Linked DNA regions of Homo sapiens. The protein of the gene in region 4 interacts with the protein of the main gene of each other region in a biochemical or structural test. Each region holds a gene or a part of one and is shown on either strand. Other genes may lie near its edges. The genes, in order: PKD1, EFNB1, ERBB3 and NCK2.

Region 1 (6,909 bases), on a different chromosome or scaffold from region 4:
TTTGTAGAAATGGGGTCTCTTGGCTGGGCGCGGTGGCTCACACCTGTAATCCCAGCACTTTGGGAGGCCAAGGCGGGTGGATCACGAGGTCAGGAGATCGAGACCATCCTGGCTAACACGGTGAAACTCTGTCTCTACTAAAAATACAAAAAATTCTCCGGGCGTGGTGGCGGGCGCCTGTAGTCCCATCTACTCGGGAGGCGAGGCAGGAGAACGGCGTGCGCCCGGGAGGCGGAGCTTGCAGTGAGCCGAAATCGCGCCACTGCACTCCAGCCTGGGTGGCAGAGCGAGACTCCGTCTCAAAAAAAGAAAAAACAACAAACAAAAAAAAAGAAATGGGGTCTCTCTGTGTTGTCCAGGCTGGCCTCAGTGATCCTCCTTCCTTGGCCTCCCAAAGTTCTGGGATTACAGGCATGAACCACTGTGTCCAGACAAAAATTGATCTGTAAACTTTTTGAGACAGCATCTCACCCTGTTCCCCAGGCTGGAGTGCAGTGGTGTGATCATGGCTCACTGCAGCGTCAACCTCCTGGGTCTACTTGATCCTTCTTCGAGGGAAGGTGTAATAAACCCTCCTGCAATGTCTTTGTTTTTCAAAATCTTTGTATTTCACAGTTTAGCTTCGTGGGTTGATGTTCTATTTTGTTTTTGTGTGTGTGTGTGTGTGTTTTGTGTTTTTTTTTGAGACACAGTCTTGCTCTTGTTGCCCAGGCTGGAGTGCAATGGTGTGATCTTGGCTCACTGCAACTTCCACCTCTTGGGTTCAAGAGATTCTCCTGCCTCAGCCTTCCGAGTAGCTAGGATTACAGGCGCCGCCACCACACCCCGCTAATTTTGTATTTTTAGTAGAGATGGGGTTTCTCCATATTGGTCAGGCTGGTCTCAAACTCCCGACCTCAGGTGATCCGCCCACCTCAGCCTCCCAAAATGCTGGGATTACAGGCGTGAGTCACCGCACCTGGCCAATGTTCTATTTTTGAGAACACAACAGTTCATAATATATTCTACATAGACCATACCTGTTATGTGTAGATAAACAGACTCTTTTCCCATTTAACACCTTTTGCCTTAGGTTTATTTTTCTGGTATCAATACTGGCACACTTACTTTGTTTGCAGTTTCCTGTCTTTTTTTTTTTTTTTTTTTTTTTTGAGACAGAGTCTCACTCTGTCACCCAGGCTGGAGTGAAGTGGCGGGATCTCGGCTCACTGCAACCTCTACCTCCTGGGTTCATGCGATTCTCCTGCCTCAGCTTCCCGAATAGCTGAGACCACAACTGTGTGCCACCATGCCCAGCCAATTTTTGTATTTTTAGTAGACACGGGGTTTCACCATACTGGCCAGGATGGCTCAATCTCTTGACCTCGTGATCCACCTGCCTCCGCCTCCCAAAGTGCTGGGATTACAGGCATGAGCCACTGTGCCTGGCCTTTTTTTTTCTTTTTGAGATGGAGTCTCACTCTGTCACCCAGGCTGGAGTGCAGTGGGGTAACCTCAGGTCACTGCGACCTCCGCCTCCCGGGTTCCAGTGATTCTCCTGCCTCAGCCTCCCGAGTAGCTGGGATTACAGGCACCCACCACCATGCCTGGCTAATTTTTGTATTTTTAGTAGAGACGGGGTTTTGCCACGTTGGCCAGGTTGGTCTCGAACTCTTGGCCTCATGTGACCCGCCTGCCTTGGCCTCCCAAAGTGCTGGGATTACAGGTGTGAGCCACTGTGCCTGGCCTGGCTTTCTTGTTTCTTTTCTCCTCTTCTAGTTTCCCCCTTTTAGGCTAACAATTATTCACTGTTAATAAAAACCCTCAGGTCTGTATTTTATCAAGAAACATTTCCCTCACGTCTTCTTCCCTGAACCAAACAAGATCTCTGGCACATTTTATTTGCTCTGTCTCACCACATGGATTTTGTTTTTTTGTTTCTTTGTTTTTTGAGATGGAGTCTCACTCTTGTTGCCCAGGCTGGAGTGCCATGGCACAATCTCAGCTCACTGCAACCTCCACCTCCTGGGTTCAAGCGATTCTCCTGTCTCAGCCTCCTGAGTAGCTGGGATTACAGGCGCGTGGCACCACCCCCAGCTAATTTTTGTATTTTTAGTAGAGACGGGGTTTCACCATGTTGGTCAGGCTGGTCTCGAACTCCTGACCTTGTGATCTGCCCACCTTGGCCTCCCAAAGTGCTGGGATTACAGGCATGAGCCACCACGCCCGGCCCCCATGGTTTTTCAAATAGTTTAGAATTTCATTTCCAGGTAACTAATTTGCTTCTTTAAACATATGTCTTTTCTATTTAAGAAATCCTTTCTAAACAATTGCATTTTATTCCACAACCGCCTTCAAACAATCATTGAGACTTGGTTAATCTGTTTTGCTCATTTGGCAGCAGTTTCTTGTGGCTGTTTCTTCCCTCCACTGGAGTCCTTGAATCTTAAGTCTGTCATTTGACTGCAATTAAAAGCTGGGTTTGGAATACAATCGCAGCCTTACCATCCACCTGCTGTGTGACCTGGTAAATTTCTTTTTTTTTTTTTGAGACGGAGTCTTGCTCTGTTGCCCAGGCTGGAGTGCAGTGGCACAACCTCTGCCTCCCAGGTTCAAGCGATTCTATTGCCTCAGGCTCCCTAGTAGCTGGGATTATAGGTGCCTGCCACCATGCCCAGCTGATTTTTGTATTTTTAGTAGAGATGAGGTTTCACCATGTTGGCTAGGCTGGTCTCGAACTTCTGATCTTGTGATCTGCCCGCCTCGGCCTCCCAAAGTGCTGGGATTACAGGCATGAGCCACCACTCCCAGCCAGTTCTTTTTTTCTTTTTTCCATTTTTTTTTTTTTCGAGACAGGATCTTACTCTTTTGCCCAGGCGGGAGTGCAGTGGCACAATCACGGCTCAGCGCAGCCACTGCCTACTGGGCTCACACGCTCCTCCGGCCTCAGCCTCTCGAGTACCTGGGACTACAAGCGTGAGCCAGTTTGGCTAATTTTGGCTAATTTTTGTAGAAACGGGGTCTCGCCATGTTGGCCAGGCTGGTCTCCAACTCCTGGACTCAAGGGATCCACCTTCCTCCCCCTCTCAAAGTTCTGGGATTACCGGAGTGAGCCACTGTGCCCTGCTGGCAAATTTCTTAAACTGTCTGTGCCTCAGTGACCTCATTTAATAAAGGGAATAATTGTAGCACACTTTTTCTAGAGCTGTGAAGATTCAATGGAATAAATAAGGCAATAAATGAATGGATGGGGAATGAAGGATGTGGGTTTCCTCCCTCTTGTCTTTCAATAAGCTCTCACCATCAACCTCCCATTGCCTGTTCTCTCTCTTCCCCCTCTCTCCCTCTGTCTCTCTCTCAGCCAGGAAACCTGGGGTAGGGAGGCTTGGAGCCAGCGGGTGCGTCGGGAGGCTGCGGGTACTGACTCGGGCCGCGCACGGAGATTGCGGGAGAAGGATCCACACCGCGGAAGAAGGATCAGGGTGGAGCCTGTGGCTGCTGCAGGAGGAGGAACCCGCCGCCTGGCCCACACCACAGGAGAAGGGCGGAGCCAGATGGCACCCTGCCCACCGCTTCCCGCCCACGCACTTTAGCCTGCAGCGGGGCGGAGCGTGAAAAATAGCTCGTGCGCCTCGGCCGACTCTGCAGTGCGACGGGCGGAGCTTCCAGACGCTCCGCCCCACGTCGCATGCGCCCCGGGAACGCGTGGGGCGGAGCTTCCGGAGGCCCCGCCCTGCTGCCGACCCTGTGGAGCGGAGGGTGAAGCCTCCGGATGCCAGTCCCTCATCGCTGGCCCGGTCGCGCTGTGGCGAAGGGGGCGGAGCCTGCACCCGCCCCGCCCCCCCTCGCCCCGTCCGCCCCGCGCCGCGCGGGGAGGAGGAGGAGGAGCCGCGGCGGGGCCCGCACTGCAGCGCCAGCGTCCGAGCGGGCGGCCGAGCTCCCGGAGCGGCCTGGCCCCGAGCCCCGAGCGGGCGTCGCTCAGCAGCAGGTCGCGGCCGCAGCCCCATCCAGCCCCGCGCCCGCCATGCCGTCCGCGGGCCCCGCCTGAGCTGCGGCCTCCGCGCGCGGGCGGGCCTGGGGACGGCGGGGCCATGCGCGCGCTGCCCTAACGATGCCGCCCGCCGCGCCCGCCCGCCTGGCGCTGGCCCTGGGCCTGGGCCTGTGGCTCGGGGCGCTGGCGGGGGGCCCCGGGCGCGGCTGCGGGCCCTGCGAGCCCCCCTGCCTCTGCGGCCCAGCGCCCGGCGCCGCCTGCCGCGTCAACTGCTCGGGCCGCGGGCTGCGGACGCTCGGTCCCGCGCTGCGCATCCCCGCGGACGCCACAGCGCTGTGAGTAGCGGGCCCAGCGGCACCCGGGAGAGGCCGCGGGACGGGCGGGCGTGGGCGCGTTCCCTGGCCCGGGACGGGAAGCAGGACGCGGGCCAGGACGCTCCCAGGGCGAGGCTCCGGCGCGGCACGGCGGCCCTGCTAAATAAGGAACGCCTGGAGCCGCGGTTGGCACGGCCCCGGGGAGCCGAAAAACCCCGGGTCTGGAGACAGACGTCCCACCCGGGGGCTCTGCAGACGCCAGCGGGGGCGGGGCGCGGAGGCCGCGCTCAGCTGGGAGGACAAACAGTCGCTAATTGGAGAGGAATTGGGATGCGGCCTGGGGCTGCGGGGTACCCGGAGAGGTGGGGATGGCTGTAGGGGGCGGCAGGGAAGAGTTCCAGGAGGTGTCTGGAAAAGGATTTGATGGATGTGCAAGAATTGGGCTGATGCTTAGGAAGGGGCGATGAGGTGGGTCCAGAAGAAGGGGGGTGAACGGTGTGAGCAAAGACCGTGAGGCTGGAGGCTGGCCACGGGAGGTGTGAGGGGTAGGGGCAGGGTGGGAGGTGGGCTCGCGGGTGGGCTGGGGTCATGAAGGGCCTCAGGCGCTCTGCTATTGGGTTCCAAGGCTATCCTGAGAACAGGGGTGAGGGGGGATTGCCGTGGGGGGTTAAAGCCTTGTCATGTTCGCTTTCGGGAGATAAAAACAACAGGTGGCCTTTATGGAGACGCTGCCCAGAGCCAGGTCTGTGCCAGGCTCCTGTTGGGGGTCGTCATGCGGAATCCTGACTCTGACCATCCGAGGCATAGGGACCGTGGAGATTTGCATTTCACAGATGAGGAAACAGGTTTGGAGAGGTGACACGACCTGTCCCAGGCATCACAGCCGGGATGTGCATAGCAGGGGTTTGGAACTATGAGGTGCCCAGGACCCAGGGTTGGATTGAAAAGGGCGGAGGGGACTAAGATAAGCAGACAGTTGTCCCCAGCGCTGGGGAGAGTCTTGGGACCAGTCTGATGCCTTGTATTTCCCAGGCTCCAGGCTCCTCGCCGGGACAGTGTCTCCTTGGGTGCGTGCTGGATCCCTGGGGGACGTGGCACATCCCCAGGCTTGCTAAACATTGGGTGGGTTCTGGCATTTGGTTTTGTAACGTTTCTGGGTCACTCCCGCCTGTGGCCACCCTTCCTTAGGGGAGCCGTGTGTCCTTGGGGCTTTGCTGGGTGGTCTCGAGGGTGGGAGAAGAATGGGTTCTCCTGGACCAATGGAGCCCGTGCCCCTCGGGGCCACATTGCTCCTGCGCTCCCTGACTGCGGACGCGTGTGTCTCGCGGCTGTCTCTGTGGAGATGGCCTCCTCCTGCCTGGCAACAGCACCCACAGAATTGCATCAGACCTACCCCACCCGTTGTTTGTGATGCTGTAGCTGAGGGCTCCTCTGTCTGCCAGGCCGGTCACTGGGGACTCTGTCCAGGGCCTGGTGGTTCCTGCTTCCCAGCACCTGATGGTGTCCATGAGAGCAGCCCCTCAGGAGCTGTCCGGGAGAGAAGGGCGCTGGTGGCTGCTGAGCGGAGAGCAAGGCCCGTGTTCTCCAGGCCCTTGGCACAGCAGTGGAGCCCCCGCCCCTGCCTTGTGTTGTCCTCTTAGGCTCTGGTCCTGGGGTTTGGAGGAGGGGGACCCTGGGAGTTGGTGGCCTGTCCCAGCCTGAGCTGGCAAGATTCCGAATGCCAGGCCCCCCAAGTGTGCAACAGGGCACAGGGTGACCTCATGTGGGCAGGTGGGTGCTGTTCTGTACACACCTGGGGCCGCCGCTGGGAGAGTTCTGGAAGGTGGGGTGAGGGGACCCATGGCAAACTAGGGCCTTAGGAAGGATGTGAAGGCCCTGGCTGGCCCCCCAGGCCACCCTCTGTGCTGTGGGGCAGCCCAGCCATTTTGCTGTCTACCCTGCAAACTCCTCCTCGGGGAGACGGCTGGGTTTTCCCCAGGGAAGAGGGGTCAAGCTGGGAGAGGTGAAGGACACAGATCACAGCTGCTGGCAGGTGTTCAAGGGTCCAAGAGCGTTGCTGTCTGGGTGTCACCAGTAGCCTTCCTGGGGGGCTCACGCAGGTGCCTCTCCACTTGTGGCTCCCTGGCTGCTGAAGCTCAGCAGGGACAGCTGTGTCCAGTTCCAGGTGGAGGACAGCCGGGGCTTCTGAGGCCACAGCCTGCCTTGGGTTAATGATGCTGCCGAGAGGTGGTGGCTTTTGGAAAAGATGGCGTACTGCAAAACGTGCTGCTCTGCGTGGCTCGAAGCTTCGTGGGGAGACGTGGGCAGAGCCGTGGCTGACTCACAGACCCCCCACCCCAGAGCCTGCCCTGCCCTCCCTGCCCCGACCCTTCTCCCTCCTGACCCATGTGTTTTTTTTTTTTTTTTTTTTTTTTGAGACAGAGTTCACTCTTGTTGCCAAGGCTGGAGTGCAATGGCACGATCTCGGCTCATGGCAACCTCCGCCTCCTGGGTTCAAGCGCTTTTTCCTGCCTCAGCCTCCCGAGTAGCTGGGATTACAGGCGTGCACCACCATGCCTGGCTAATTTTGTATTTTTAGTAGAGACAGGGTTTCTCCATATTGGTCAGGCTGGTCTTGAACTCCTG
Region 2 (3,640 bases), on a different chromosome or scaffold from region 4:
CCCTTTGAAGACTGGCATGTTCTCCTCTTAGCCTGGCCTTGGAATTCTCGCCCCAACATTTACCAAGCTCACCTTGGCTCCAGGGGTTGGGCAGGAGAGGTCTCCAATTCGTGTTGCTTCTCTCTTATTTTCTTTGCCCACCTAAGTTCTAATATTGGGAATGGTAACATATGCCAGGCCCTTTGGGATCAGCCAGCTATTCAGCCTTTTTCTTCAGGGGAAACCAAGGCCCCAAAAGGTGAAGGGACTTCTTGCCTTAGATCACACAGTGAGTTAGAGATAGGGTCAGGACTCCAACCCAGTTCTCCTGATTCCTACTCCAGAATTCCTTTCAGTCTATGTAGAAGCCCCCATTATGATCCCAGTGAGGAGGCAGACCTTACCGAGGGGCCATGGCCTGCTCGTGACAGAGGAGCAGTGCCCCTGGGGGTGGGGCTTGTTCTTGGCCTGGGCTGGACTAGGCCATTTTGTTCCTAGTGGGAGGGAAGAAAATGAAAAGGTTCACTGGTAGATGGGAGCTGCTTGCTTCTCCCGACTGCAGTTTCTCTCCCTGTTGGCTGAAGCAGAATGGGAGTTTCTGGGTAATGCTAGTAGACCTTTCTCTCCTCCTGACTTCTCTGACTTCTCTGGCCTCTTCCTGCAGCAACATCCAATGGAAGCCTGGAGGGGCTGGAAAACCGGGAGGGCGGTGTGTGCCGCACACGCACCATGAAGATCATCATGAAGGTTGGGCAAGGTGAGTGCCTAGTCTGAGGGTCCCCTCACCCCACCCTGTTTGACCTTTGGAACAGATGTTCCTGGCTGGGTGCATGTGTATTAGGAGTGGGGGAGCAGGCGTAGGGTTACAGTATCCAGGCCATTCTTGGCCCACCCTTGATGACTGAGGGCACCTATGCTGGCCGGGTCCCTGCCTCTCACCTGTTCTGTCTCCATTCTTAGATCCCAATGCTGTGACGCCTGAGCAGCTGACTACCAGCAGGCCCAGCAAGGAGGCAGACAACACTGTCAAGATGGCCACACAGGCCCCTGGTAGTCGGGGCTCCCTGGGTGACTCTGATGGCAAGCATGGTAAGTGTATGTGTTTCCCAGAGGTCAGGAGCCATTGCTCTGTCACCTTGTTAGGCCCTGTCCCTGAAGAAATGCAAGCTGGGCCTGGCCTGAAATCTGCTGTGTGTCCCTGGGACCCCTGGCTGACTGTTCCTTCCCCTTTCCCTTCCTCAGAGACTGTGAACCAGGAAGAGAAGAGTGGCCCAGGTGCAAGTGGGGGCAGCAGCGGGGACCCTGATGGCTTCTTCAACTCCAAGGTGGCATTGTTCGCGGCTGTCGGTGCCGGTTGCGTCATCTTCCTGCTCATCATCATCTTCCTGACGGTCCTACTACTGAAGCTACGCAAGCGGCACCGCAAGCACACACAGCAGCGGGCGGCTGCCCTCTCGCTCAGTACCCTGGCCAGTCCCAAGGGGGGCAGTGGCACAGCGGGCACCGAGCCCAGCGACATCATCATTCCCTTACGGACTACAGAGAACAACTACTGCCCCCACTATGAGAAGGTGAGTGGGGACTACGGGCACCCTGTCTACATCGTCCAAGAGATGCCGCCCCAGAGCCCGGCGAACATCTACTACAAGGTCTGAGTGCCCGGCACGGCCTCAGGCCCCCGAGGGACAGTCGGCCTGGACCGGACCTCTCCTTTCGCCCCCACACCCCCTCCCCTTGCCAGCTGTGCCCACCTTTGTATTTAGTTTTGTAGTTTCTTGGCTTTTATAATCCCCCTTTTTCCCTGCCCCCTGGGCTTCGGAGGGGGGTGCTTGTGCCCCTAACCCCCATGCTCTTGTGCCTTCCCCCTCTGGCCAGGCCTCTGGGCTCCGTGGGGGCGCCCCTTCTTGGAAGGCAGGGCTGGACACTGATGGACAGCAGGCAGGGAGACAGTCCCCTGGCCCTGCCCCTCCCTCGCCCCCCTTGCCACCTTCCCAGGACTGCTTGTCCGCTATCATCACTGTTTTTAATGCTTTTGTGTTCATTTTTTAGCTGTCAACTCATTTTCATCTGTTTTTTGAAGAAAAATGGAAAAATGTAAAAGGCAGCCCCTCCCCAGGCTTTGTGAGCCTGGCCCAAGCCAGTACAAGAGGGCCTGGGGCACGATGTGGTCAGCCAGGAAGCATAGGATGCCATTTCTTTTATAGATTCCTTGGTATTTCTGGTGGGGTAAGGGGCAGGCCAGGGCTGTTCACGCCCATGAGGGAAGAGGAAAGTGCCACTGGGCAAGGTGTCCCACCCTCCCCTCCTGACCCTCCTACGAGGCTTATCCTGGCAATGGGGTAGTCACTGCCACCCTTCCACACACACACACACACACACACACACAAAAAAAAATCCCTTCCTTGTGGGATTCTTGGGCATCTCCTGCCTCCCTCACTCTCACGGTAATTAATGTCTTAATTGGCTGTTGCCTGGGGAACAGGAGAGCTGCTGCAGGCAGATGACCTCATGGGGGGTGGAGGGAGGTGAGGTGCCCAGGTGGCTATTTGCCCTGCAGAGCTGGGAGTTTCACCCCCACCCCCCACCCTGTTCTCTCCTTACCTTTGGCATCCTTTGGCCTGGTGGGGAAACAGAGGCCCAGGGTGGAGACCTAAGCGGGTATAAGACCAGGTGGCCTGCTCCTTTTCTGGGCCCTAGCACAGGTGGGTAACCCCCACCCAACCCAGCTCCTGCTGCTGTCCCAGTCTTGGGCTGGGGCCTGGAAAGAGGAAGAGGCTGCCTGGGGCTGGGCCAGCCCGCTGTGCACTTTGACCCCAGTTCCTTGCCAGCACGGCTGCTAACAGACTGCCACTTGAGTGCGCCTTGCAGGCACTCCCAGAGCAGCCATGGAAGGAGCTGGCCCTCACACCATCCACCTCCACACTGCCTCCTGGCCAGCTGCCCACCCCAGTGCCAGGTGGGAGAGGGAGCAGAACAGCCAGCCCCTTCCAGGTGGCAGTCGGAAGGGTTTTTGTTTTTGTTTCTGTTGCCATTTGTGTAAATACTAGTCTTTTTGGAAAAAAAATAATGTAAAGATGTTTTGTATAAACTCTGAATTATTTTCTTGTTGCTTTTTTCTTAGAAAAAAATGAGAACTAAAAAAAAAAAATTAACCACATGGAGAAATGGGTGTAAAATGGTGTCGTGATGTTGGGAAATGGAGAGTGAGAGTTGTGTGCGTGCGTGTGTGGTGGGGGTGTGTGTGTGTGCGCTTTCCTGTGCTCAAACCACTGGTGACTGGGGCAGGTACGGGCAGATGATGGCTATCCTAGTGGAGCAAGATGTTTTAATGCCCTATGACCCTCCTGCCACTCCCCTCACCCCAGGTTTTTCTGCTCTCTTGTTCTGCTGTCATGGAGCCTGAGACCATTTCCCCTGTTCATCCTGTCACCTCTGTGGCATAGGCCACGGGCATCTGCCCAGTCTGGCACAGGCCCAGTTAGAGAGGGTTAATGGAGGAGGGGATGTTCCCATGGGGACCTGGGTGTGTCCACAAAGTACTGCCACCACCTAGCTGGGGCTAGATCTGGGACCTGCTGGCAGGCCCAGCCCTGCCCTGCCTCAGGACGCCTGGAGGTGGATAGAAATAACTTCCCAAGATCTGAACTTCAGCTGCAGCCTA
Region 3 (7,046 bases), on a different chromosome or scaffold from region 4:
CTAAAAATACAAAAATTAGCCGGGCATGATGGCACACACCTATAATTCCAGCTACTCAGGAGACTGAGGCAGGAGAATTGCTTGAACCCGGGAGGCAGAGGAGGCGGAGGTTGCAGTGAGCCAAGATTGCACCACTGCACTCTAGCCTGGGGAACAGAGTGAGACTTTGTCTTAAAAAAAAAAAAAAAGTATATGGGGAATTTTATACCATTCTTGCAACTTTAGTGTAGATCTAAAATTATGTCAAAATAAAAAATTAAAGGAAAAAAAAAAACAGGTGGTCATAGTGGGTTTTTTTTACACACACACACACATTTTAAATGCTGTCCTATAGACTAGAAAGTCCCTTTGTTCTTTTTGCTCCAAGGAGCAGAATGAGTGAAAACAGCTAAAAGTCATGGGGAGACAGAATTTTCTTTTCTTTTCTTTTTTTTTTTTGAGAAAGAGTCTCGCTCTGTCGCCAGGCTGGAGTGCGGTGGTGTAATCTCGGTTCACTGCAATTTCCGCCTCCTGGGTTCAAGTGATTCTCGTGCCTCAGCCTCCTGAGTAGCTGGGATTACAGGCATGTGCACCACCACACCCAGCTAATTTTTGTGTTTTTAGTAGAGATGGCATTTCACCATGTTAGCCAGGATGGTCTCGATCTGACCTCGTAATCCGCCCACCTCGGCCTCCCAAAGTGCTGGGATTATAGGCATGAGCCACCGGGCCCAGCCTGGAGACAGATTTTTATCCAAATCTAAGGAAGAACTTTTACAAAACTTTAAGAAGGAGGTTGGGTGCTGTGATCCCTAGCACTTTGGGAGGCCAAGATGGGAGGATTGCTTGAGCACAGGAGTTCGAGATCAGCCTGGGCAACATAGCAAGACCCTGTCTCTACAAAAAAATACAAAAAAATTAGTCAAGTATGATGGTGTGTGCCTATAGTCCCAGCTACTTGGGATCACTTGAGCCCAGGAGGTCGAGGCTACAGTGAGTCGAGATCACGCCACTGCACTCCAGCCTAGGTGACAGAGCAAGACCCTATCTCAAAAAAGAAAAAAGAATAAAAAAGAAAACTTTAAGAAGGAGGATATGTTGTTCCTGTCCCTTGTTCCTTGGCAGGGCGATATTGAATTGCTCAAAGATGTTCCTGAGGGGACCGAAGGCCTGGATGGAGGATGTGTTAAGCATTCTTTCAGGTCCTTTGTAACAGGCTAGAATTTTATGACTTTGATTCCTAGTCAGCTCCACATAGGAAAGTTTTGGCCAATGAAATGAACTGTGAGGGGTGCGTGGGCTGGGGTCTAAGGAGGGAAGGCAGGATCTCTAACCCATTGAGGCCGGTGATCAGAAAGTCCAGGTTGCCCAGGATCTTGGTGCAGTTCACAAATCCATCAATGTTGCTCGAGTCCACAGTCTGGAAGCGGCTCCCAGAGCCTGTTCCCTCACAGGCTGCAAATGTAAGAGAGGTTCAGTGGGGGTGGTCTGCGCAGGCTCAGAGGAAAGGCTGTCTCTTTACAACTTCTTACCATCTCCTACCCACCTTTGGGACATAGTCCCCCACAAGGCTCACACATCTTGAGCCCATTTTTATCTACTTCCATCTTGTCAGGAGGACAGGCCCTGACACAGGATGTTTGATCCACCACAAAGTTATCTAGGGAAGAGGAGGAGGACACCATTAGAGATGAGGGAGGAACATCACCAGCTACCAATGGAACCCTTGCTCTGGGCCTAGGCTCCCTCCAGCTCTGCACTGGATTTGTCCCCATCTGCCACCCTAGATCCCTTAAGTGCTGCCCTATAGATTCAAAAGTCTCTTCACTATTTGTTGCTACAAGGAGCAGAAGTAAGGGTGATAGCTGAAGTCATGGGAGGACTGGACGTAAGGGTCACTCACTGGAGTGGTTAGATGATCATAACCATTCACCAATCTCCCTATTTATCACCAACTGGATTCTTTTTCCCTTCCACAATTTTGTCTAAAATCTTGGATCTACTATTGTTGATCATTGTTCCTTCCCCTCAGACACTTACGGGGACAGCTGGCTACACAAACTCCTCCATACTGATACTTGGTGTGGGGATTGGGTTCCAGCTGGAAAGTTAGCTTGTTGTAGACAAGAGGCTGTGGACAGCGAGGTACACAGGCTCCACTGTCATTGAAGTGCCGGCAGGCCTGGGAAAAAAGGAGGCTCATCAGATTTATGTTACGTGTGTACCCCTACCTCCTCCTCAAAGGCCACATCCCAATTTCAGAACCCAGGCAATGGAAAGGGTACATACAAAGCAGTCTGTGTCCTGAGGGCCTGAGCAGCCCCCGGCACACTCATCATGGCAGCACTGGTTGGGGTTGGGCCCAAAGCAGTGACCATTACACTGAGGAGCACAGATGGTCTTGGTCACTATGGAAGGAGAGAAAGCATGGCTGTTAGGGCTCCTAGGACTGAATTCTGAGGCCACTGCTCATGCCTCCCCCACAGTGTTGACCCAGGCTTGGGGAGGAAGGGATATGAAAGCGTATGAGTGAAGTTTTTGGAGGGAATTTCAAACCCACATGTCTGGCAGTCTTCTGATCCAGGACCCCAGCATCGCCCCTTGCAAACCTCATGACAGGGGGGACCTGGTTGGGAAGGAAGGCAACACAAGGGGCCATCAGGGCTAAGAAAGGCTTGTTTTAATCAACGGGGTATGATGTCAGTACACAGGCACCTCAATCCCGGGAAGCAAAAAGCCAGGGCTGTGTCCCTCCCTGCCCTTGGAGAGCAGGGCTGGGCTCAAGTGGACCTGTCAACAAGGGGCGCGGCCACGCCTCCACACCACCCACTGGGCAGCTGAAGGGGAGGGACTGGGGCAAATGCCAACCTTAGTCCTAGTCCCAACCCAGGAACTTAGTTCCTCCTGGGCAAACTGAATATATGCAGGAATATATGCATGTGAATGGTCAGGGGAAGGTGGGCTCCAAGGAAATGGGAGTATATTCTAGTGGAACGAGTAACAGATGTGGAGTCTAAAGATCTGGCTTCCCTGCTTAGTACTCAGGGATTTTTTTTTTTTTTTTTTGAGACAGGGTCTCACTCTGTTGCCCAGGCTAGAGTACAATGGCACAATCACAGCTCACTGCAGCTGCAGCCTCCTGGGCTCAAGCAATCCTCTGCCTCAGCCTCCTGAGTAGCCGGGATTACAGGTGCGAGCCACTACGCCTGTCTGATTTTTTTAATTTTTTGTAGATTTTTTGCTATGTTACTCAGGCTGGTCTTGGACTCCTGGGCTCAAGCGATCCTCCCACCTTGGCTTCCCAAAGTGCCAGGATTATAGGCATGAGCCACCATGCTCGGCCTGCTCCTTTTCTTGAAACACCTCCTCTGTGGTTTAGATTCCAGGAGACTGGAATGGTCTGCCCTGGTGGGCTGCTGAGTCAGGGACCTGAGGTGTTTGTTCACTGGGGAGGCGGGTTCAGATCAGGAATGTAAGGATGATGGAAAGAAGGGAGTCACTCTGGTTTGGTGGGACTGGGGAGCAATCTTGATCACGGCCACTTACAGCTTCTGCCATTGTCCTTCACCACTATCTCAGCATCTCGGTCCCTCACGATGTCCCTCCAGTCAATTGTGTCCATGTGACAAAGCTTATCGTTCTTCTCAATATAAACACCCCCTGACAGAATCTCTGAGGTAGGGAAAGAAGTGACAGGGTTAAGGGCCGCAGCGGAACGCCTCTTCCTTACCTCTCCACCCATCCAAAAGGACACCTGAGACTCAGGAGTGGGAGAATGAGGCAGACAGATAGGTCCAATTAAATCTAAGCTGCAGAGAAGACTCCCTTTATAAGATGAGGAGTCAGGCCAAAAGAAACTCCTGCCTCCTCAGTCACCTGTCCAGATCCGGTTTAGCTAGTGGGGGAGGGGAAGGGAGAGAGGGAGAGATTTCTGACTCAACATTCCCTCCCCCAAGCCCTGCCCATATGTTTTCCAACTGACTGGGACATGGAGAAGCAGAAGATGGACAGGTGGTTTTTAACCCCTATATTCCTCCAGCTCATAGGGGTTTGGTTTAGGAGAGTAAAGGTAGAATTCCTAGGGAAGGAGGGACATCCAGGTATACTGTACTTTGGTTTTTTTTTTTTTTTTTTTTTTTGGAGTCTCGCTCTGTCGCCCAGGCTGGAGTGCAGTGGTGCAATCTTGGCTCACTGCAAGCTCCGCCTCCCGGGTTCACGCCATTCTCCTGCCTCAGCCTCCCGAGTAGCTCGGACTACAGGCGCCCGCCACCACACCTGGCTAATTTTTTGTATTTTTAGTAGAGACGGGGTTTCACCGTGTTAGCCAGGATGGTCTCGATCTCCTGACCTTGTGATCCACCTGCCTTGGCCTCCCAAAGTGCTGGGATTACAGGCGTGAGCCACCGCGCCCAGGCTTTTTTTTTTTTTTTTTTTTTTTTTTGAGACGGAGTCTCACTGTCACTTACGCTAGAGTGCAGTGGTGCAATCTCAGCTCACTGCAACCTCCACCTCCCAGGTTCAAGCGAGTCTCCTGCCTCAGCCTCATGAACAGCTGGGATTACAGGTGCGCACCACTATAGCCAGCTAATTTTTTATTTTATTTTATTTTTTTGTATTTTTAGTAGAGACAGGGTTTCGCCATGTTGGCCAGGCTGGTCTCAAACTCCTGATCTCAAGTGATCTGCCCTCCTTGGCCTCCCAAAATGCTGGGATTACAGGTGTAAGCCATCAGGCCTGGCCTCCGGTACACTGTACTTTGAAATTAGAAAAACGGTTAACAGATCCAGCTCTGACTCCAGCCCCACAAGGACACAGGGTTCCTTTCCCTGGAGCAGATGCCCCTAGCTCCCCCTACTGGGGGCCCTCTATTGCTTAGGGAGCAATGGACCTTTAGACAGCGGCCAAGGTGACAGGCACCTTGGAAGAGGCACTTAGAGTGAGCAGTCTTGGGTCATCATCAAGGAGGTACCAGTCTTGGGCTGGCTGAGGGGTGAGGCCAGAAGGAACCATCGGGAACTGACCGGTGAGCTGAGTCAAGCGGAGCTGGCGCAGAGCGTGGCTGGAGTTGGTGTTATAGTTCAACATGACGAAGATGGCAAACTTCCCATCGTAGACCTGGGTCCCTCGCACCACGCGGAGGTTGGGCAATGGTAGAGTAGAGAATTCATTCATGGCCACGAGGACATAGCCTGTCACTTCTCGAATCCACTGTGACAGAGCAGATTATGTAAATGAGAGAGACAACAGGGCAAAATAATCTCAATCTCCTCTCCTCCTTCAGGCATTAAAGACTCTTTAACTGTTTTAATTCTTCCTTCTTTCTTTCCTTTCTTTTTTTCTTTTTTTTAAAATTTGAGACGGAGTTACGCTCTTGTTGCCCAGGCTGGAGTACAATAGTGCGATCTTGGCTCACCACAACCTCCACCTCCCGGGTTCAAGCAATTCTCCTGCCGCAGCCTCCCAAGTAGCTGGGATTACAGGCATGTGCCACTACACCTGGCTAATTTTGTATTTTTAGTAGAGATGTGGTTTTTCCATGTTGGTCAGGCTGGTCTCGAACTCCTGACCTCAGGTGATCCGAGCTTGGCCTTTTTTTTTTTTTTTGGTGAGACAGGGTCTCGCTCTGTTACGAGTGGCACAATCTCGCTCACTGCAGCGTCAAACTCCTGGGCTCAAGCAATCCTCCCACCTCAGCCCTCCAAGTAGCTGGGACTACAGGTGCATGCCACCATACCCAGCTAATTTTTGTATTTTTGTAGAGACAGCGTTTCACCACATTGCCCAGGCTGGTCTTGAACTCCTGACCTCAAGTGATCTGCCTTCCTTGGCCTCCCAAAGTGCTGGGATTACAGGCATGAGCCACTGCACCTGGCCTTAACTCTTGCTAATTCCTATTTGGGAGTAGGGAGTAGACTGTGTCACACTGCTGTGTCACTTCTGGGAGTGAAGACAGGCAGCTTTCTCCTCAAAGTGCCTCATACCAGTAGGGCCCCTTCCTCATCTCCCCAGGTAACCTCTTGGTCCTCAGGTTTCTCTCTGCACTAGTCCCTGCTGACCTTGCACTATCCACAGAACACCACCTGCCCCTGACCCTGCCCCCTATATATCCCTGGCTACAACAGTGAGACCATAGGTCCCAGATGACAGCCACTGTCCCCATAAATACACGGTTTTGAATCTTAGGAACTCCTGAGTCTTAGGAAGGGTGAACTCCAGCAGAAGGTAGCCCTGAAGAAGGAAGGAGGGTTCTAGGGGAGAATAAAGAGGAGCAGGTTGAGGAAGGAGGGTGGGCTCACTAACCTGCAGGAAGGAGAGGTCGGCATTGTGTCCCGTGAGCACAATCTCAAGGTTCCCCATCACCACCTCACACCTCTCGTAGAGCTTGTACAGTGTCTGGTATTGGTTCTCAGCATCGCCGGTCACACTCAGGCCATTCAGAGTCCCAGGACACACTGTTCAAAGCAGAGGGAAGAGTGGCTGAGGGCTGGACACAAATTCTCAGCCCATCTGCCATCCCCAAAGATCACCCCCTTGGTTGCCCTCTTCCAGTTACATTAGACAGGATCAGATGGCATTTGCCTCCAACCCTCCCACAAGCGATAGGCAGAAGCTGTAGTGGCCTGAGAGCTTTCTCTCTTCTCAGAATCCCCTTACCATTCCATGAATGGGAAGGTGAAAAGATTTCCTTTTTCAACCTGGGACCCCTCTGTGCTTCTTTTGGGTACTAAGGGGTTAACTGAGAAGGAAGACAGGGAATTTGTTTCTCTCCCTAGAAAAGAGAAGTTAGGAAAAGGCCGCAACTTTGATTACCCTCCTCTCCCCCTCCAACTAGGGCACTCACTTCTCTACCCTCATCCTGCCTCTCTCTAGGTCCTGGAATAAATATCTCTTTGGGACTAGTACACAGCCCCTATTGTGTCTACTGAGGGTGGGATGGGGGCAGAGGGTGGGGGCAGTGCCTGGGGCCACAGTCCAGCCCACAATGAGGCGATTCTATCCAGGAGGGGGGCTGCCCCACCCTGTCCCTAGACACCCCGTCCTCAGCAGCACTCCCCTCCACCCTCAAG
Region 4 (6,907 bases):
TACTGTTCTTTTCTAAAAGTACCCACTTATCGCGAGCACAAATTGCAAAGAGATGAGGTGTAAGAATTACCTAAAGGAATGAATAATGGAAGAGGTAGTCAAAATTAGAAATTTTTAAGTCTGCACGTTTGTTGAACACCAGATACTCTGAGCCCGGTGTGGGGATGTGGAGCTAAATAGGGTTCTTGCACTTAGTTGTATTCAAACACAGAATCTAAAGCCTAAACAAAAATAATGATGATAGAGGCCCCGAGAGAGGTTGGTTTTCCGCCAACCTATTAATTGTCCTTAGATTCCACTTGGAAAATGACTTCTGAAAAGAAGGGTCAAATGAATGGGTTGTACTAATTGTTCATTCTCCAGAACCATTGATTCAAAAACTATGAGAATGGAAAAATCATTCCTTATAAGGAGTACTCATAGAAGGACATAACAGGAAGAAGTGGTCTGATGTTTGAAAATTTGAAGAATTTGCCCAGTAGTCAGCACAGAGAAATTACTATATACCAAGTAAGTACAGTGTTTGGAGATGGAAAGTGTAGGAAATGCGGACAGTGGGAGGTAGCACAAAGGTGGCAATTAAAGAGGAGAAATCAAAGGGGAGATGTTTCAAAACCCGGGGACTGAGTCTAGTTAGGTTTTAGTCCAATCATAGAAAATTGTAATGAGTGTCCTGTCCATCTATGATGGCTTAAAAAGATGTCCATAAATTCTTTGGTACTCTTTGCTTCAGAAGGTGGAGCCTGACCCTCTTCCCTTCAGCATGGGCTGCACTGAGCAACTCACTTCTAATGACCAAGATGTGGCAGAAGCGATGGAGGGCAGCTTCCGAGATGGGCATTGTGGCTGCCTCTTTGCTCTCTCTTGGGTCACTTGATCTAGGGTGAGCCAGCTGTCATGTTGAGAGTACATTCAGGCAGCCCTACAGAGCCCCCTAGGGGTTCATGTGAGCAGACTGCCTTGGAAGTAGAGCCTGCATCCCCAGTCTAGCCTTCAGATGACTGCAGCCTCAGCCAGCATCCTGACTGCATGTTTCAAAAATGTGTTAAGATTCTTTGACAAGCTTAAATGTAGAGTACTCTACCATACTATCAGTACTCTAGTACTTGTTGAGGAGCAAGTGTGGCATGGTCCTTTTTCATCCAATTTCTTGAAATCTGTTCTAGAAAGCCAACCGTGGAAGGACTGCAACAGATGAGAATAGGACTGATGGAGTTGCTTTCATGGGAATCATTCCCTGGCTCCCTCTGGAGGCAGAGTTGTTTTGGGTCGGGAGTAACTCCATCTCCATCAGATGCAGGGACTGGTGGCTCACTTTGAAAGGAGGAGACCATACAGCAGTGTCCCAGCTGTCCCTTCAGGGGAAATTCCCTATGAGAGATGTCTGGAGCAGAGCCAGAGTCCTCAGGACAGAATTGGAAAAGTATCCACAGACTGGAGCTCCCTCCATCATGGGCTGCTTTGCCCATAAATGGCATTCCCATCTTTTTCTGGTGACCAAACATTTGTTGGTGGCTCCAGCACTGCCGATGTTTGTTCCAGATTTTCTTTCTTCCAGTTCTCAAACTGCATCAGAGTCCCCTGAAGGGCTTATTAAAACACACGGTGCTGGAGGTTAAAACACAGATGGCTGGGCTCCACCCCAGAATTTCTGCTACAGCAGGGTTGAGGCAGAGCCTGAGAATTTGCATTTCTTTTTTTTTTTTTTTTTTTTTAATTATTTTGAGATAGGGTCTCACTCTGTCATCTAGGCTGGAGTGCAGTGGCCCTGTCATACCTCACTGTTGCCTTGACCTCCCGGGCTCAAGTGATCCTCCCACCCTGGCCTCCCAAGTAGCTGGGACCACAGGTATGCATCACCACACCTGGCTAATTATTTTAAATTTTATGTAGAGATAGGGTCCCACTATGTTGCCCAGGCTGATCTCAAAGTCCTGGCCTCAAGTAATCCTGCCACCATGGCATCCCAAAGGGCAGGGATTACAGGTGTGAGCTTCCATGGCTGGCCCTTGAGAATATGCTTCCTAACCAGTTCTCAGAGGATGCTCATGCTGCTGGTCTTGAGAGCACACTTGGAGAACATCTTAACTAGTTCATCTTCACACTTCACTTAGAGGTGTTCAGTGGTCATATGTAACGGTGTATGTTAGTATACAGATTGTTCTTTTTCAGATTTCCTACAGAAAATCTACTTAGTTTAAATTAAAGAACACTCCCCAACTTTTAGCACTCCTGCTTGGCATAAATTGGTTCTACATCCTTAACTTTTAAAGGTTTCTGCTCAGGAGCCCACGAAATTAAAAATTACCTCTTCTGCTGCGAAAATTTTATTGCTGCAACTCATGCATGCATACAGGCACACACACACCATGATGTTAAATTAAGGAGCTTGAATTAAAAGCAAATTTCCCTTATGTAGAAAGTCATCTGTTGATCATTTGGCTTAATTAAAATTGGGTGTATCTTACATCTACCATGATTCACTCCCATACTGCCTCCACTAAAAATGATGCCACATTATCTCTAAATTGAGCCTGGCTTATAGTAAACTCTATAAGTGAGACTGCCCTTCATCTTTTCCTAAAGATACAACTTCTAGTACAGAATATTAATCATCTATAGGCTGAGGCCTAATCTGAGATTAACCTTCTGGTTTCTTCCTGGAGTTTCATCCAGGAGTATGCCCTGGGCCTCACATGGGGATGAGATGGGGCTTTTCGCCTCAAAGGTTTGTTCTTATTTGGTCTATTTGAGACAGAGGCATGCATAAATACAAACTATACTTACAATTGTTCCTTTCATTCTTTTCTGTTAACAGCTATGGCTGCTGGGTGAGCCCAGCTGCCTTGCACAATTTGAGTCTTCTCAGACACTCATTCCCCTGAGTTGTCATTGGTAGAAATGGAGTGATTCCTTGTTTTGCAAGGGTTGCACACTTCTCATCAAACATTTATTTGGGCTTTTGTGAACTCTGTAATAGACAATGGCCTAGTCCTTTGTTAACTGTCTGGAGGTCCTGCTGGGAGGTCGCAGAGCAGGGCTGAGCTGCTGGACCCTCAGAGCAGGAAGTTTCTGGGCTTTGAGAAAAGCAGAAAACTGGTCTGGGAATTCCAGGAAGAATTTCGGATGTTAGGCTGTGGTCCTGCCACTGGCCAGGCATGTCCGAGGTACCAGCCCTGCCTCGGAGAGCACATGCTCAGCTCCACATTGTCCAGAGGGCTCTCCTGCCCCCACACGCACTTATACATTCACACAGATGAACTCACACGCTACGCATACTCTCACACACTCTCAATACTCACATACTCCCTCTCACATCTGCGCACGCTCACACACTTAGAGCTGCGGTATCTCATGCTCCTCTTTCATGCAACTCTTTTTTTTGTTTGTTTTCTTTTTTTTTTTCATAGAACTTACTGCCCTGTGCAGCCATCTGTACACCTCTATTTATCTGTTCCCCACACCAGATTGTCACAGAGCATATGTCCTGCATGCACACACATGTATCCAGGGCACCGCCTGCCTGGCATGTGTTAGTAACTAATTGTTATTCATTTAATGAATTGATCAAAACTTGATATTTTTGTACAAAGAACATTTATCGTTCAGTATCTTCTTTCCTGCATGCTTTTCAGCAAATGAGATAAAAGACCAATTTTTTTTTTTTTTTTTTTTTTTTTTTTTTTTTTTTGAGATTTTTCGCTCTTGTTGCCCAGACCAGAGTGCAGTGGCGTGATCTCAGCTTACAACTTCCACCTCCCAGGTTCAAGCGATTCTCCTGCCTCAGCCTCCCAAGTAGCTGGGATTACAGGCACACTACCACCATGCCTGGCTAATTTTGTATTTTTTAGCAGAGATGAGGTTTCACCATGTTGGCCAGGCTGGTCTCAAAGTCCTGACCACAGGTGATCCACCTGCCTTGGCCTCCCAAAGTGCTGAGATTACAGGCGTGAGCTACTGCACCTGGCCAATAAAAGACACATTTTAATTAAAATAATGACATGTTTCTAAAATATTCTGAAATAGAAGGCACATCACAGAATTTAAATATTTTTCAATAAAATCTGTAATCAAACCATAGTTCAGCTTCCTCTGGGATATTGTGAACTATGTTTAAAATGCGACCGGAATTTTCCACTGCTGTTCATATTTTTAAATGCTTAGAATTAGAAAAATTAGCCAGGCATGGTGGCACATCGGGAGGCTGAGGCAGGAGAATCTGCTTGAACCTGGGAGGCGCAGGTTGCAGTGAGCCAAGATCACACCATTGCACTCTAGCCTGGGCAACAAAAGCAAAACTGCGTCTCAAAAAAAAAAAGAATTAGAAAAATTTTGATGTCTTAATTTCTAATAGGGTTAGACATCAGAAGTAGTAAAATTTCTAGCTACTGCCTGCATGCAAACCACTCTTAATAAATTCCCAGTTTATCAAAAAATAGTTTGGGAAATGAAAAACAGCAAATTTCTTGAGCAGTCAGGGCAACACTGTATATTCCATAGTGAAGTGCTGTATATTCCATAATGAGTTTGCACTTTTCAAATAACTAAAACGCATTTAGCACTGAAACTGGGCTAAGCAGAATTTATTTTTTCTTTGGTTCAGAATTTCAGAATCGTGGACTACCTCCAGGTCTTTCTGAACATCAGATGCCGTTCTAGATATAAAACAGAGACCCGGCTGGGCGTGGTGGCTCATGCCTGTAATCCGAGCAATTTGGAAGGCTGAGGCTGGGAGGGGGGTGGGGATCACCTGAGGTCAGAAGTTCAAGACCAGCCTGGCCAACATGGCGAAACCCTGTCTCTACTAAAAATACAAATATTAGCCGGGCATGGTGGCAGGTTCCTGTAATCCCAGGTACTCGGGAGGCCGAGACAGGAGAATCGCTTGAACCCGTGAGGCGGAGGTTGCAGTGAGCCGAGATTGGGCCACTACACTACAGCCTGGGCAAAAGAGTGAAACTCCATCTCAAAAAAAAAAAAAAAAGCAGAGACCCAGTGTTTGAGCAATGGGTGGTTTGGATTTAGACGCACAAGAGATGTGGATGGATTTAGACACAGCTCCCCGCTGTGGCCCGGCTGTAACTGTGTTCTGTTTCCTCCCCAGCCCAGCGACTTCTCCGTGTCCCTTAAAGCGTCAGGGAAGAACAAACACTTCAAGGTGCAGCTCGTGGACAATGTCTACTGCATTGGGCAGCGGCGCTTCCACACCATGGACGAGCTGGTGGAACACTACAAAAAGGCGCCCATCTTCACCAGCGAGCACGGGGAGAAGCTCTACCTCGTCAGGGCCCTGCAGTGACGGCGCCCCGGCCCCACACTCGCCTCCCGGGCCCCACGGTGGAGCTGCCCGCCCGGCCTTGTGGCAGAGGCTCCTCCCGCGGGGACGGCCCCGACGGCTTCTCTGCGAGTCTCTCTTTATGTTCAGGTCGCTTGGTCGGTTCGTCTCCCATTTGCCATCCAGGCCTCACACCCACACTCGAGCCCACCCGGCCGGCCAGCTTTAGAGGAGGGGAGGAGCAGGGCGAGTTCACATTATTCCTTTTCCATCGGAAGTGGCGCTCGTGCATTCAACTCGTTCCCGCTCATGGAACCCCTCTTTAAAAAGACGCAGGGCACCTGTGAGCGCAGGAGCGAGCCTAAGGCCACCCAGCGGCAGCGCCCGTGTCCTGGGCACTCAGCGTGCTGGGCAGAGCAGGTGCGATGGCCCCAGTCCTAGCAGCCCTCGCCCATGTCCTGTGCCCTTACATGGCTCCCGGACTGTGCAGGGAGCCGATACGTTTGCTGATAGCAATACTGGAACCACCGGGTGCGATGGCAGTGAGGAGACTGCCCAGTGCCTTTGGGGCTGTGCTTGCAATAAAGAATTTCCTGGAAAGGCAGTCTGCAAAAGAGGGAACCGGTGACTCAGAAAGACAGATGTTTTGGTAATTTACCCCAAATGTGCCATCCACATAGTGCTTTTTCCTCTTGCCCTTCGGCTTGTTTGAATCTCACAATTATGTATTTAATTCTCAAAGAAATATGTATCTGTAGCCGTTTGTTGACACTAATACAGATGATTAAGGAAAACAGCTGATCTTTGGGGAAGGGAGCTACCAACACTTTATACACACACACACGTGCACACACACACACACACACACTATATATATATATATTATTTACAGGGAAATTTTTCAGGGTTTACAAAAGAGTATGTGATTGGTAGTAAGAGACACACAGAATGTTTATGAAGAAATTGCATTTTCTTTTTCCTTTACATTTGAACTTCTTTATAGTTTAAATATAACGTCTTGAGATGGCACATTCCTACGATTGAAGAAGGGGTCTTGAGATCCCCTAAACTTGCATACCCAGTTTTTTGGATATTGTAATAAAAAAAAGTATTATGACAAGGCTCTGTGTGTATTTATCTTTGGGAAAACTCAGACTCAATCATGGGAGAGTAATTACTGAAGCATTCACTCATTGCGGAGTGGAAATCATTTTTAGAGAAGAGCTTAACATTTATTACTTGTGTGTTTTCATTTTCTACCCCCACATTTTTGTATATTGAAATAATGAGTTTTAATTAGTGAAACCCCAAGGGAACCCAGAATCTCAAGCTTGGTCTGAACTTTGCTCTTTGGAAAATATTTGTTTAGAAATATGTTGCTGAACTCTTGGCAGCCAGCGCTCTCACACCATGTGTCCCCCACGACTAACTCTCGATTTGTCCTCTTGATCGGGAGCATTTATATTGATGTGCCAGGCCCTGGGGGTGCAGAGTCACATGACTTGGCATTTGTGCCCTCCTAGGCCAATCACGTATCAAGCGCTCCCTCTGCACCATGCACTGCGCCCCCATTTGTTCCTCATCACAGCCCCATGAGGTGGGACCTGCTATCATCCCCATTTTATAGATGGG

What was found.
Region 1: the proteins of NCK2 (region 4) and PKD1 form a complex in vitro, tested with the Homo sapiens proteins (one study listed by BioGRID).
Region 2: the proteins of NCK2 (region 4) and EFNB1 form a complex in vitro, tested with the Homo sapiens proteins (one study listed by BioGRID).
Region 3: the proteins of NCK2 (region 4) and ERBB3 form a complex in vitro, tested with the Homo sapiens proteins (2 studies listed by BioGRID and IntAct, with this or other methods).

The regions. Positions count from the first base shown.
Region 1 is NC_000016.10:2,132,871-2,139,779, reverse strand, and holds the start of PKD1 (polycystin-1 isoform 1 precursor), read left to right. Parts: upstream 1-3,881; 5' UTR 3,882-4,090; coding exon 4,091-4,305; intron 4,306-4,528; exon of another isoform or gene 4,529-4,747; coding exon of another isoform or gene 4,748-4,752; intron 4,753-6,575; exon of another isoform or gene 6,576-6,661; intron 6,662-6,909. UniProt on the Homo sapiens protein: Component of a heteromeric calcium-permeable ion channel formed by PKD1 and PKD2 that is activated by interaction between PKD1 and a Wnt family member, such as WNT3A and WNT9B. Both PKD1 and PKD2 are required for channel activity.
Region 2 is NC_000023.11:68,839,021-68,842,660, forward strand, and holds the end of EFNB1 (ephrin-B1 precursor), read left to right. Parts: intron 1-643; coding exon 644-736; intron 737-939; coding exon 940-1,068; intron 1,069-1,221; coding exon 1,222-1,634; 3' UTR 1,635-3,140; downstream 3,141-3,640. UniProt on the Homo sapiens protein: Cell surface transmembrane ligand for Eph receptors, a family of receptor tyrosine kinases which are crucial for migration, repulsion and adhesion during neuronal, vascular and epithelial development.
Region 3 is NC_000012.12:56,083,136-56,090,181, reverse strand, and holds part of ERBB3 (receptor tyrosine-protein kinase erbB-3 isoform 1 precursor), read right to left. Parts: intron 6,869-7,046; exon of another isoform or gene 6,634-6,868; intron 6,432-6,633; coding exon 6,280-6,431; intron 5,188-6,279; coding exon 5,001-5,187; coding exon of another isoform or gene 4,870-5,000; exon of another isoform or gene 4,565-4,869; intron 3,652-4,564; coding exon 3,526-3,651; intron 2,606-3,525; coding exon 2,540-2,605; intron 2,388-2,539; coding exon 2,269-2,387; intron 2,162-2,268; coding exon 2,020-2,161; intron 1,640-2,019; coding exon 1,526-1,639; intron 1,435-1,525; coding exon 1,314-1,434; intron 1-1,313. UniProt on the Homo sapiens protein: Tyrosine-protein kinase that plays an essential role as cell surface receptor for neuregulins.
Region 4 is NC_000002.12:105,887,878-105,894,784, forward strand, and holds the end of NCK2 (cytoplasmic protein NCK2), read left to right. Parts: intron 1-5,104; coding exon 5,105-5,299; 3' UTR 5,300-6,395; downstream 6,396-6,907. UniProt on the Homo sapiens protein: Adapter protein which associates with tyrosine-phosphorylated growth factor receptors or their cellular substrates. Maintains low levels of EIF2S1 phosphorylation by promoting its dephosphorylation by PP1.